Homo sapiens: one gene and its partners. The protein of the gene in region 1 purifies or fractionates together with the protein of each later gene. This does not show direct contact. Each region holds a gene or a part of one and is shown in the gene's direction. Other genes may lie near its edges. The genes, in order: GLYR1, NEFH and LCP1.

Region 1 (3,650 bases):
CCATGCTGGAGTGCAGTAGCACGATCTGCACTCACTACAACCTCCACCTCCCGGGTTCAAGCAGTTCCTGCCGCAGCCTCCTAAGTAGCTGGGATTACAGACGTGTGCTACCACAACTGGCTAATTTTTGTGTTTTCTGGTAGAGATGGGGTTTCGCCATGTTGGCCAGGCTGGTGTCGAATTCCTGGCCTCAATCCACCTGCCTCGGTCTCCCAAGGTGCTGGGATTCAGGCATGAGCCACCGCACCGGGCCCTACATGTATGATTTTCATTTAAGAGGAAAGCAAATCAGAAGTGTGCAAGTTTTTGAAAATACCAGATTTTAATTCATTTTGATTGGAGTAATCTGAGAGTGCCTTAGTGGCGGTTCTGTATTCATAGATGAAGAGACTTTTTATAGGAAGAGTGTCAGGTCACCAGGGTAAATTGGCTGTGTTACAGGTGCAGTTATGCCAGCAGCCAGGCAGCAGCAACCCACCAGAGCAAACCTGCAAACCAGGAAGTCATGGAGGAAACCCTCTGGGCAGTCGGCATAGCCTGTGTTCTAGGGCAGAGGCCTTTAGTATTGATTTGTTTTGTTTTTTTTTTTTTTTTCCAATATAATATGTGTTCACCATTCAAAAACAAAAACTTGTCAACATTGAAACAGTTGCATTCATCCCCATCCCACAGCCACCCAGTTAGACCAGTTTCTGATGATGTGTCCCTCCAGAGATATCAGTGCGTGGTCAGTCCATTTTCCTTGTCTTTGCACGAGTGGTAGCACATAACATGCATTGCTTTTTATCTTGCTCATCTCCACGTAGCCAGATATCTTACGAGACATCCGCTTTCCTTCTCTGTAATGACCTTGCCTGTTTTCAGCTATTTACTATCACAATGTGTCATTCATTCTACTGTACATAAAAAGCAAAGTCTCCTACTTTAAATACAGCTTGAATAAGCTTGATTTTTCTGACTTCCCAGCCACAATTGGGCTGAAAGATATAGCTCCATCTAAGTCTTGGGAGGATGATAGGAAAATCAAAAGTTACAGCTTCTATCAAGGAAAGAAACAGTCACTTAAAAAACCAACAGTAGCAACAACAAAAACACTAAAGCCTTACGCACTGGAGCATTGTAGCACCTTTTAACTCACTGGTGAGCAGTACATCCTCCTGAACATCTGGGAAGGAATCATTTACCCAGTGATTATTTATTGAGGACCAGTGGTGTGCCAGGCCCGGCTGATGTGCCTCCGTGAATTAGACAGTGGTGCATTGTTGAGGCGCCAACTGAAAAGCATATTCTCATTAAAAAGACAGAGGTAGGCCAGTTGCAGTGGCTCATACCTGTAATCCCAGCACTTTGGGTGGCTGAAGTGGGCAGATTACTTGAGTTCAGGAGTTCGAGACCAACCTGGGCAACATGGTGAACCCCATCTCTATAAAAAATAAATTTAAAAAAGATGAAAGAAGTGTAACCTTTAGAGAAAAAATTGTATTCAGATAGCCAAAGTGATTTAAGTTTGGTTTGCTTTCAAGAGGTAATCCCCATAGAGCTCTGGTAAGCTGGGTTTTTTTGTTGTTACTGTTTTTGAGGTGGAGTCTCACTCTGTTGCCCAGGCTGGAGTGCAGTGGCACAATACTGGCTCACTGCAACCTCCGCCTCCTGGGTTCAAGTGTTTCTCCTGTCTCAGCCTTCCGAGTAGCTGGGATTACAGCTGCGTGCCACTACACCCAGCTAATTTTTATATTTTCAGTAGAGACGAGATTTCACCATGTTGGCCAGGCTGGTCTCAAACTCCTAACCTCAGGTGATCTGCCTGCCTCGGCCTCCCAAAGTGCTAGGATTACAGGTGTGAGCCACCGTGCCCAGCCAAGCTGGTTTTTTATGGCTGTTTTTTGATGTAACAGGATGCTTCTCCAGCAATAAGTTGATTCCTTAAATAGATTAACATTTCTTGGATTTACCATCCTATTCATACTGTCAGTTCATTTAGCCATTTTAATGTTTCGAAGATGGTTGTAAAGAGGAAAATTTTAGTATCTCAAATGCTTTAAAGTGAGTGGAATTTTGACTGTACAGTTCCTTCTAGCAGAAATCAGTAAACCTTGTAAGATGCTTCAACAAAAAATGGGGTTGATTCCTTGGCACTTCACAGACATCCTCACCTTTCTGTTCCCTCAGAATCGGGTTCCTGTGAGGCTGGGTAGTGGGAGGCAGGGATGGAGGTAGCAGGATGGCGTGGGTGGGATTAGCAAGTCTCGGAGTCTGTTGTCCCATCTCAAGGGGTTCCATAAAAATCACCTTTTTGGTCCTATATTGGGAACTTGTGTGGTTCTCAGCTTCTGACCAGAAGCTCCTAGGAAGAACTGGCTGGTCACGACTCCTTAAGCTTCATCCTTGATACTGGTTGTGTCATCTCAGACCCACGGGTTAGTATGGTAGCTTCACTGGCTTTTGGGGCTGGGTCTGACTTTGCATCTGATTGCTCTGGCCTGTCATTAGCATCCCTGTAAGGAGAGGGAACGGAGTCAGTTCAGGGATATTCTTGCCAGAAAATCTGGGGTCGAAATCTCCTTCCACTTTTCCTCCCAGCAGATTGGACTCATTGGCGCTCTCATGTTGAATTTCAAACTTTAAGATGAGTTGGTCACTGGAAAGGAGTTTGCTGGCTCACACCTGTAATCCCAGCACTTTGGGAGGCCAAGGCAGGTGGATCACTGGAGGCCAGAAGTTCAAGACCAGCCTGGCCAACACAGGGAAACCCCGTCTCTACTAGAAACATAAAAATTAGCTGGGTGTGGTGGTGCATACCTGTAGTCCCAGCAACTCGGGAGATAGAGGCAGAATTGCTTGAACCTGGGAGGTGGAGGCGGAGGTCGCAGTTAGCTAAGATCGTGCCACTGCACTTCATCCTAGGTGACAAAATGAGACTCTGTCTCAAAAAGGAAAAAAAAAAGGCCAGGTGTGGTGGCTCACGCCTGTAATCCCAGCACTTGGGAGGCTGAGGCAGGAGAATCACTTGAACCTAGGAGGCGAGGTTGCCGTGAGCCAACATCGCCCCATTGCACTCCAGCCTGGGCAACAAGAGTGAAACTCCGTCTCAAAAAAAAAAAAAAAAAAAAAAGGAATTTGCCTAACTCCTCTAGTTGGAGCTGTGCCAGGGAGACCAGCTTCTGTATCTCCATTCATCATCTCACTTAGCCATGGTGGCATGCCTGATAGTGGTTCGCTGCCTGACATCTGCAGGCCGATGATCCCAGGTCTGTGTTTTTGCACAGACCCCATTATCACAACTACCAGCAGCACACTCAAAGTCCAGGTAGCTGGTGGAGGGTTAGTAACATTATTTTTATGTGCAAAGGTTAACACTTGCTGTTAGTGAATATTCTCTAGCTTTCTATGAAGAAAACAACCTGAAGCTTGTGAGATAGCTGGGTTTCTGTATCCTTAACCTGACCTACTTTTTCTGAAGGTTATGCTGTGAAACCTGTATCACAGGCTAAAACATGTAAACTAACTGATACCTTGTAAAGCCTATAAAATTATTTTGTGCTTGGATTCTATAAGCTGCATGCCATTCAGGGAAGCCATAGAAAGCCAGCTGCAGCAGATTTGTTCAGGTTAGTGTGACAGATCAGAAACCCCAGAATTGACAGCTGACT
Region 2 (3,650 bases), on another chromosome or scaffold:
TCGCTATGTTGGCCAGGCTGGTCTCGAACTCCTGACCTCAGGTGATCCGCCTACCTCGGCCTCCCAAAGTGCTGGGATTACAGGCGTGAGCCACTGTGCCCAGCCAATGAGTCTTGAGAGTGACTTACTTTCATTCTGAAATGATTTAGACGGTGGAAGTTCCTTATCCCCTCCCCAGATCCAGCCAGCCAGAGGCCTGCTTTGAAGGGAAAAGAGGTGCTTGAGTCAGGGACCTTTCAAACTCTGTCCTTTAGAGTTTCTTAGCTCTGCAAGCATTCATTTCTTGGGGATATAAAGTGGAGATGATAATAAGGGCAACCATGTCATAGGGTTGTCAGGAAGATGAGCTAATCCCATTCCCAAGCTAATCCAGGAAGCACAGGTACCACTGGGCTGCTACAGAGGGAACCCTTAGTCAGTGGCAGCCTTGAGAAATCCAGTCTGAGGAATAAGACCGGGGGGAGCAGGGCTAGGGAGCAGGACTGATTCCCTGAGGACTTGTCCCAGTTCTGACTGGTGACCTGTGGCTTCCTACCTCTTGGCTCTCGTCTGTAATCTTGCTACTCAAAGCATGGCACATGAACCAGCAGAATTGGCATCATTCAAGAGCTTATCAGAAAGATAGTCTCTTGGTTGGGTGTAGTGACTCATGCCTGTAATCCCAGCACTTTGGGAGACCAAGGCAGACAGATTGTTTCAGTTCAGAGACCAAGCTGGGCAGCATGGCAAAACCCCATCTCTACAAAAAATACAAAAAAAAAAAAAATAGCTGGGCATGGTGGCACATGCCTTTAGTCTCAGCTACTCAGGAGGCTGACGTGGGAGGATCACCTGAGCCTGGGAGTTGGAGGCTTCAGTGAGCTATGATCGTGCCACTGCACTCCAGCCTGTCATCACAGAGTGAGACACTGTCTCAAAAATAACAACAACACAACAACAACAAAAGACAGACGCTCAGCCCCTCCCCAGACCTGCTGAATCAGAATCTGCATTTTGATAAGATCCCCGGTCATCTGTGTGCTGCTAAATTTGGGAAGTACTAGTCTGAGGGGTAACCCCCACACTTACTCTGAGACAAGCATTCTGCCAAGTCTTTTCCATTCATTGTCTCACTGAAACAACCCTCTGACGTAGGGACTCTAATGACCCTCTTTTTCCAGTGAGGAAATTGAGGCTCAAAGAGTTGGTGTGTCTTGGCCAAGGTCACCCATCTAGTGAGGAGCAAAGCCAAGAGGAGAAACTGCGGCCTCTACCCTATTCCTGAAACTCAAAAGATGGTAATACAGGGTGATGAGAGACACTCGCGATTCAAATGGGAGCGTTCTAAGACCTCTTAAACCCAAATTTATAAAAGTAGAATTGTGGTCGGGTGCGGTGGCTCACACCTGTAATCCCAGCACTTTGGGAGGCCTAGGCGGGTGGATCGGCTGAGGTCAGGAGTTCGAGACCAGCCTGACCAATATGGTGAAACCCCCGTCTCTACTAAAAATACAAAAATTAACTGGACGTGGTGGCGTGCGCCTGTACTCCCAGCTACTCAGTAGGCTGAGACAGGAGAATTGCTTGAAGCTGGGGGAATTGCTTGAATCTGGGAGGCAGAGGTTGCAGTGAACTGAGATTGTACCACTGGACTCCAGCCTAGGTGACAGAGCAAGACTCCGTCTCAAAAAAAGGAAAAAAAAAAGTGGAATTGTTTGCTCAGGCTCCCAGGGTTCTCTTGAATAATATTTTAGTTTGAGGGACAATAAATTTAACTTTTGTTAAATTTATTTAGGAGCTTTCTCTTGAGGGCCATTTTTTATGGGGCAAAAGTTGTTTTATTTCAAAAGTTTCAGGCTTAGCTGTGTTGAAGAAGACCAGCTGTTCCAGCCTGGGCAACACAGTGAGACCCTCTCAAAAACAACAACATCAACAAAAAAAGACCAGTCCCACCGGGGTACACATTCTGGGTGGTCACTGGAATGATTTGCCAAGTGACTTTCTCTAGTCTCATAATGCCCACCATTCACATTCCTGTTCCACCAAAACCCATATCATTCGATGTCAGTGACCTTCAGGATAGTCTAGGAAGAACCCAAATAGTGAATTTGCCCTGAGTTTATACTAATGTGTTCCGTGATCCATCCTGCAGAAAACTCCTGGAAGGTGAAGAGTGTCGGATTGGCTTTGGCCCAATTCCTTTCTCGCTTCCAGAAGGACTCCCCAAAATTCCCTCTGTGTCCACTCACATAAAGGTGAAAAGCGAAGAGAAGATCAAAGTGGTGGAGAAGTCTGAGAAAGAAACTGTGATTGTGGAGGAACAGACAGAGGAGACCCAAGTGACTGAAGAAGTGACTGAAGAAGAGGAGAAAGAGGCCAAAGAGGAGGAGGGCAAGGAGGAAGAAGGGGGTGAAGAAGAGGAGGCAGAAGGGGGAGAAGAAGAAACAAAGTCTCCCCCAGCAGAAGAGGCTGCATCCCCAGAGAAGGAAGCCAAGTCACCAGTAAAGGAAGAGGCAAAGTCACCGGCTGAGGCCAAGTCCCCAGAGAAGGAGGAAGCAAAATCCCCAGCCGAAGTCAAGTCCCCTGAGAAGGCCAAGTCTCCAGCAAAGGAAGAGGCAAAGTCACCGCCTGAGGCCAAGTCCCCAGAGAAGGAGGAAGCAAAATCTCCAGCTGAGGTCAAGTCCCCCGAGAAGGCCAAGTCCCCAGCAAAGGAAGAGGCAAAGTCACCGGCTGAGGCCAAGTCTCCAGAGAAGGCCAAGTCCCCAGTGAAGGAAGAAGCAAAGTCACCGGCTGAGGCCAAGTCCCCAGTGAAGGAAGAAGCAAAATCTCCAGCTGAGGTCAAGTCCCCGGAAAAGGCCAAGTCTCCAACGAAGGAGGAAGCAAAGTCCCCTGAGAAGGCCAAGTCCCCAGAGAAGGAAGAGGCCAAGTCCCCTGAGAAGGCCAAGTCCCCAGTGAAGGCAGAAGCAAAGTCCCCTGAGAAGGCCAAGTCCCCAGTGAAGGCAGAAGCAAAGTCCCCTGAGAAGGCCAAGTCCCCAGTGAAGGAAGAAGCAAAGTCCCCTGAGAAGGCCAAGTCCCCAGTGAAGGAAGAAGCAAAGTCCCCTGAGAAGGCCAAGTCCCCAGTGAAGGAAGAAGCAAAGACCCCCGAGAAGGCCAAGTCCCCAGTGAAGGAAGAAGCTAAGTCCCCAGAGAAGGCCAAGTCCCCAGAGAAGGCCAAGACTCTTGATGTGAAGTCTCCAGAAGCCAAGACTCCAGCGAAGGAGGAAGCAAGGTCCCCTGCAGACAAATTCCCTGAAAAGGCCAAAAGCCCTGTCAAGGAGGAGGTCAAGTCCCCAGAGAAGGCGAAATCTCCCCTGAAGGAGGATGCCAAGGCCCCTGAGAAGGAGATCCCAAAAAAGGAAGAGGTGAAGTCCCCAGTGAAGGAGGAGGAGAAGCCCCAGGAGGTGAAAGTCAAAGAGCCCCCAAAGAAGGCAGAGGAAGAGAAAGCCCCTGCCACACCAAAAACAGAGGAGAAGAAGGACAGCAAGAAAGAGGAGGCACCCAAGAAGGAGGCTCCAAAGCCCAAGGTGGAGGAGAAGAAGGAACCTGCTGTCGAAAAGCCCAAAGAATCCAAAGTTGAAGCCAAGAAGGAAGAGGCTGAAGATAAGAAAAAAGTCCCCACCCCAGAGAAGGAG
Region 3 (3,750 bases), on another chromosome or scaffold:
GGACATTATCTACAGAGTCCTGCTGCAGGGCCCCGAATGAAGACAGCATTTTGCTGCTTTGTAGCGTGAGCAGTGCTGTAACAGTGATGCATGGATGTTCCTCTGGTGTCCTGAAAGAATGTAGGTGCTTCTTGAAAGCTCTCTGCAACTTATTAATTGGGAGTGATTATGCGATGGAGAAAACAGAGTCCCATCACCCCCTCAGTCTTCCCTGGGAAATCACAAGAGGGCTGATAGCTCTCTGTGAGGTGAACCGTTTCTAGAATCCCCACCGTCTCGTCCTGTTCTTCCGCCCACCCAGTTCCTCAAGATAGCCCCTGTGGGCTTCTGATGAAGTCACCACACCACTGGCTAATGAAGTAGATAAACCAGAACAGTTTGGTTTAACATTTAAGGTCAGAAACAGGAACTTTCTAGAGGAGAAATCAAAAAAGCAAAAGAAGTATAAGGGCAGCCCTCCAACCAGTCAGAATACCGTGACCACCTGAGAGGCCCGTGGCCCAGCGGACACGGACGCATGTCAACTCTGGAGCAGATATCTTCAGCGCAGCATCTGACCTGGGAGTACAGCCACATACCCTCATTCCTAAACGGCAGATTGACTACTGGAGTCACACACAGTCTCCGGGCAATGTGGAGACATGTCTAATATTTAGTCAACATAACTCAGGGTGCCACAGTCTTCACAACTGTTGTGAGCACTTGAGGATGCTCCATTTGAAGATAGGAATTTGCCCTCAAGCATCTGGGGTTTGGGTACAGAACAGAGCTTCCCCTGCCACCACCTGCTAATTTTATAAAATGTGCATTCAAAAAAAAATCCTGCCTGTAAGAAGGAATTAAGCTACCCATTTAAATATAACAGCTGCCTGTGCAATCTACTGCTGCTCTTTATAGGAAACGCTTAAATAATTGAGATACTTAATTGGGTTAAAGAGATCCCTAGCACATAGATGTTCTATAAATAAAAGAATGAGTAAATAATCTAGTAACCTTCCTTTTCATGTCCTTCACTTAAAGAGATCGTTCTGTTTTGTTTGCACCAATAAGATCACTGTTAGAGGACTCCAGAGAGGTTTGATTTCAGGTGGGGTGGGGCTTTCCCAAGGAAGTCCCTTTTCATTTGTTTCAGGTGTACTGCCACCTTTTTCCCTGGCTCTTTCACTAAAAATGAAAAATTTGTTGATCTTTGCTGTAAGTAGGTAGGCATCTGGGCTTTGCTTTTGCAACTAGAGTCAAAGAAGTCAAGTTATCAGGCTGATCTTGCCTTGCTATCTAGAATCAGAAAGGTTTAAGTAGCCCAGGGACTACTCAAAGACAGCTGGAGGAGAAAGGGAGAGAGAAAAATGCTTATAAAGAGGTGGGCAAAAGAGCGGGACCTTGTCTCAAAAAAAAAAAAAAAAAAGAGGAAGTGGTAGGAGGTGTCTGAATTTCACTGTGACCTGTTCTGTCAGGTGATTTTTGGTGGGGCGGGGACATGAAAAAAAAGTTAAAATGTCCTTATAAAGACAAAATCTTTTTCTTTCCTGGCTGATGATTTGTCATTCTAGTCACTTCCTGCCTTGTGACCACACACCCAGGCTTGACAAAGCTGTTCTGCAGATCAGAAAGAAGGGGTTCCTGGTCATACACCAGTACTACCAAGGACAGCTTTTTTCCTGCAAGGTAAATGTTCTTCATGTGTTTTTGTTGGTTTTAAGCGCTTGTGATGCACTTCGGCACTGTTTCTGTGGATTGTGGGTTTTGCCTTCAGGGGACCAGAGATCTGAGCATGTCACCTGAGACCTCTGTGATTCCTGCCACTGTCTAACTGGCCAGGACATCTGCCGCCACCTCGCGTGGCCATCCAAGATGGAGCACCTCGGCTCTCTGGGCTGGGTTCTTCTCAACTTATCTGCAGTTATCACCCCTGCCCAAAATTAAGGTTTCTTTTTCCTTTTAAAACCAAACCATGTTCTGGTTTATTTCTATTGCTCTATTTCACGGAGGCTATTTACTGTGATTTTATCTTCTTTAAAATGTTTTCAGGAAAAGCGCGTATTGATAATTTAGATTGTATGGCTTATTGGCCCAATGGGGGTAGTTTAATTTTAGTTCCTGCGGTTCTGTTTTTCTAAAAAACTTCTTTACAGTACTTTAGTGGATAAATTATCTAGAGTCATATGTTACTGAATGTGATACTGGTTATTTGAGTGATTTTTGGCGCCAAGGGTTTTTAATGGGTGTGCTTTATAACCACATGGAATTAGAGGTTTTCTCTTTTCCATTTGTTCTCTAAAAATAAAAGCAATTTGTATAATGCTTAATTGTAGTGTTTTTGTAGGATTGTCTGAATTATTTGTTATGCTTATGACCATATCAATGAATATTCACTCAAATTCTGGGAGAAAGGCTTTTATCTACAATAGAAATTTTTACACAGTTGATATGGGATATTTATTTCAGAAACTGCCCAAACATAGACACTTTGGATTTTGTAGTATAAGCTTTTACTTAATTACCACTATCACATAACACTAAGAACCATTGACAAATGATAACTATAAAAGCCATTCAGACTGGAAATGCGAACATTAATCAGGATGTTTATCAAAACCGAACTTTTCTTTTACACAGCAACTTGTTTTCTAAAATTACTCTGTCAGAACTATCAGTAAGCAAATAAAGGTGGCTTATCCACACACATCTTGATTTTGAATTTACATACATTTGTCATAAGTTTGGTTTCTATTAAGTATAATTGTTTAAAGAATGTCTGTGTAGACAAATTTGAATAGAATTAATCATTTACCTATAAATGTGAATTTCTGGAAACTGCAAAATGTGACCACCAATGTTACTTTGCACATCTCACCTGAATAGTTTCAAACAAGCAAAAATGTGAAACTGAGATAAGAGGGACTTGAACCCCGTAAAAGAACAGACTAAAAATATGTTGTGTCTTATTTTAAGTAAAACTATTAATGAGAATAAAATAAATTCGAATGTGAAGGAATGTCAGTATTTTTCTTATATTTACGAAGGAATAAAAAAGAACTATGCGAAAGTTAATTCAAAATATAAAGGTCCCCTGTTTAAAGTTAAGTTTACATTGCTAAAGCATCAACCCCATATGTTACAAAGATATTCCTCTTCATTCTAGCTCACCCCCAGGAACATCAGGGGAAAAATCTTCTAGGTCTTGCCCTTTGAACAAGCACTGCTGTGGTGGGATGGAGTTGTGCCTAGGAGGACATTTCCTTAGCAATCCCAGAGACCCTTTTCTTTGTAGCATTTAAATTTTTGTCTCTTTTGTAAATTATGCCTTGAAACAATTGGTAATTTGGGAAACAATTTCAGTGCTTTAACTTCATTTATAATTCTATCTCTGAACCCTTTGGGGAAGGGAAGACCAACAAGTAAAGTCTCATTTACTTGTTGTTAAAGTACCATTTAACTTGGAGAGGACAGGAAATTAATAATAGCACTCAATAATTATGAGCACGTAGTGTAAGCAGCTACTCTTTATGCATTACCTCGTTTAATCCTCTCAGCTACCTTTAGAGATAAGGAATGGGCTAGATAATTGAAGGAACCGGCCATAGGTCACTGGGCAGTTGGGGTGGGGGGCAGTAGATGGCCAGGATTTCAGGCTCCTACTGACTGTGTGTGTTACAGATCCTCCCTTCCAGGCCAGCATATTTTTCTCAGAGGTAGGTGATTATAGACTTTTATTACTGAAGCTAGCTAACAAGATCTTGGCACTCACAG

Evidence for each region.
Region 2: the proteins of GLYR1 (region 1) and NEFH purify together in Homo sapiens (affinity purification with mass spectrometry, with the first as the bait; one large-scale study listed by BioGRID). This does not show direct contact.
Region 3: the proteins of GLYR1 (region 1) and LCP1 purify together in Homo sapiens (affinity purification with mass spectrometry; 2 studies listed by BioGRID and IntAct, with this or other methods). This does not show direct contact.

Annotation. Positions count from the first base shown.
Region 1 is NC_000016.10:4,833,758-4,837,407, reverse strand, and holds part of GLYR1 (cytokine-like nuclear factor N-PAC), read left to right. Parts: intron 1-3,650. UniProt on the Homo sapiens protein: Cytokine-like nuclear factor with chromatin gene reader activity involved in chromatin modification and regulation of gene expression. Acts as a nucleosome-destabilizing factor that is recruited to genes during transcriptional activation.
Region 2 is NC_000022.11:29,486,718-29,490,367, forward strand, and holds part of NEFH (neurofilament heavy polypeptide), read left to right. Parts: intron 1-2,131; coding exon 2,132-3,650. UniProt on the Homo sapiens protein: Neurofilaments usually contain three intermediate filament proteins: NEFL, NEFM, and NEFH which are involved in the maintenance of neuronal caliber. NEFH has an important function in mature axons that is not subserved by the two smaller NF proteins.
Region 3 is NC_000013.11:46,180,026-46,183,775, reverse strand, and holds the start of LCP1 (plastin-2), read left to right. Parts: upstream 1-1,598; 5' UTR 1,599-1,665; exon of another isoform or gene 1,666-3,750.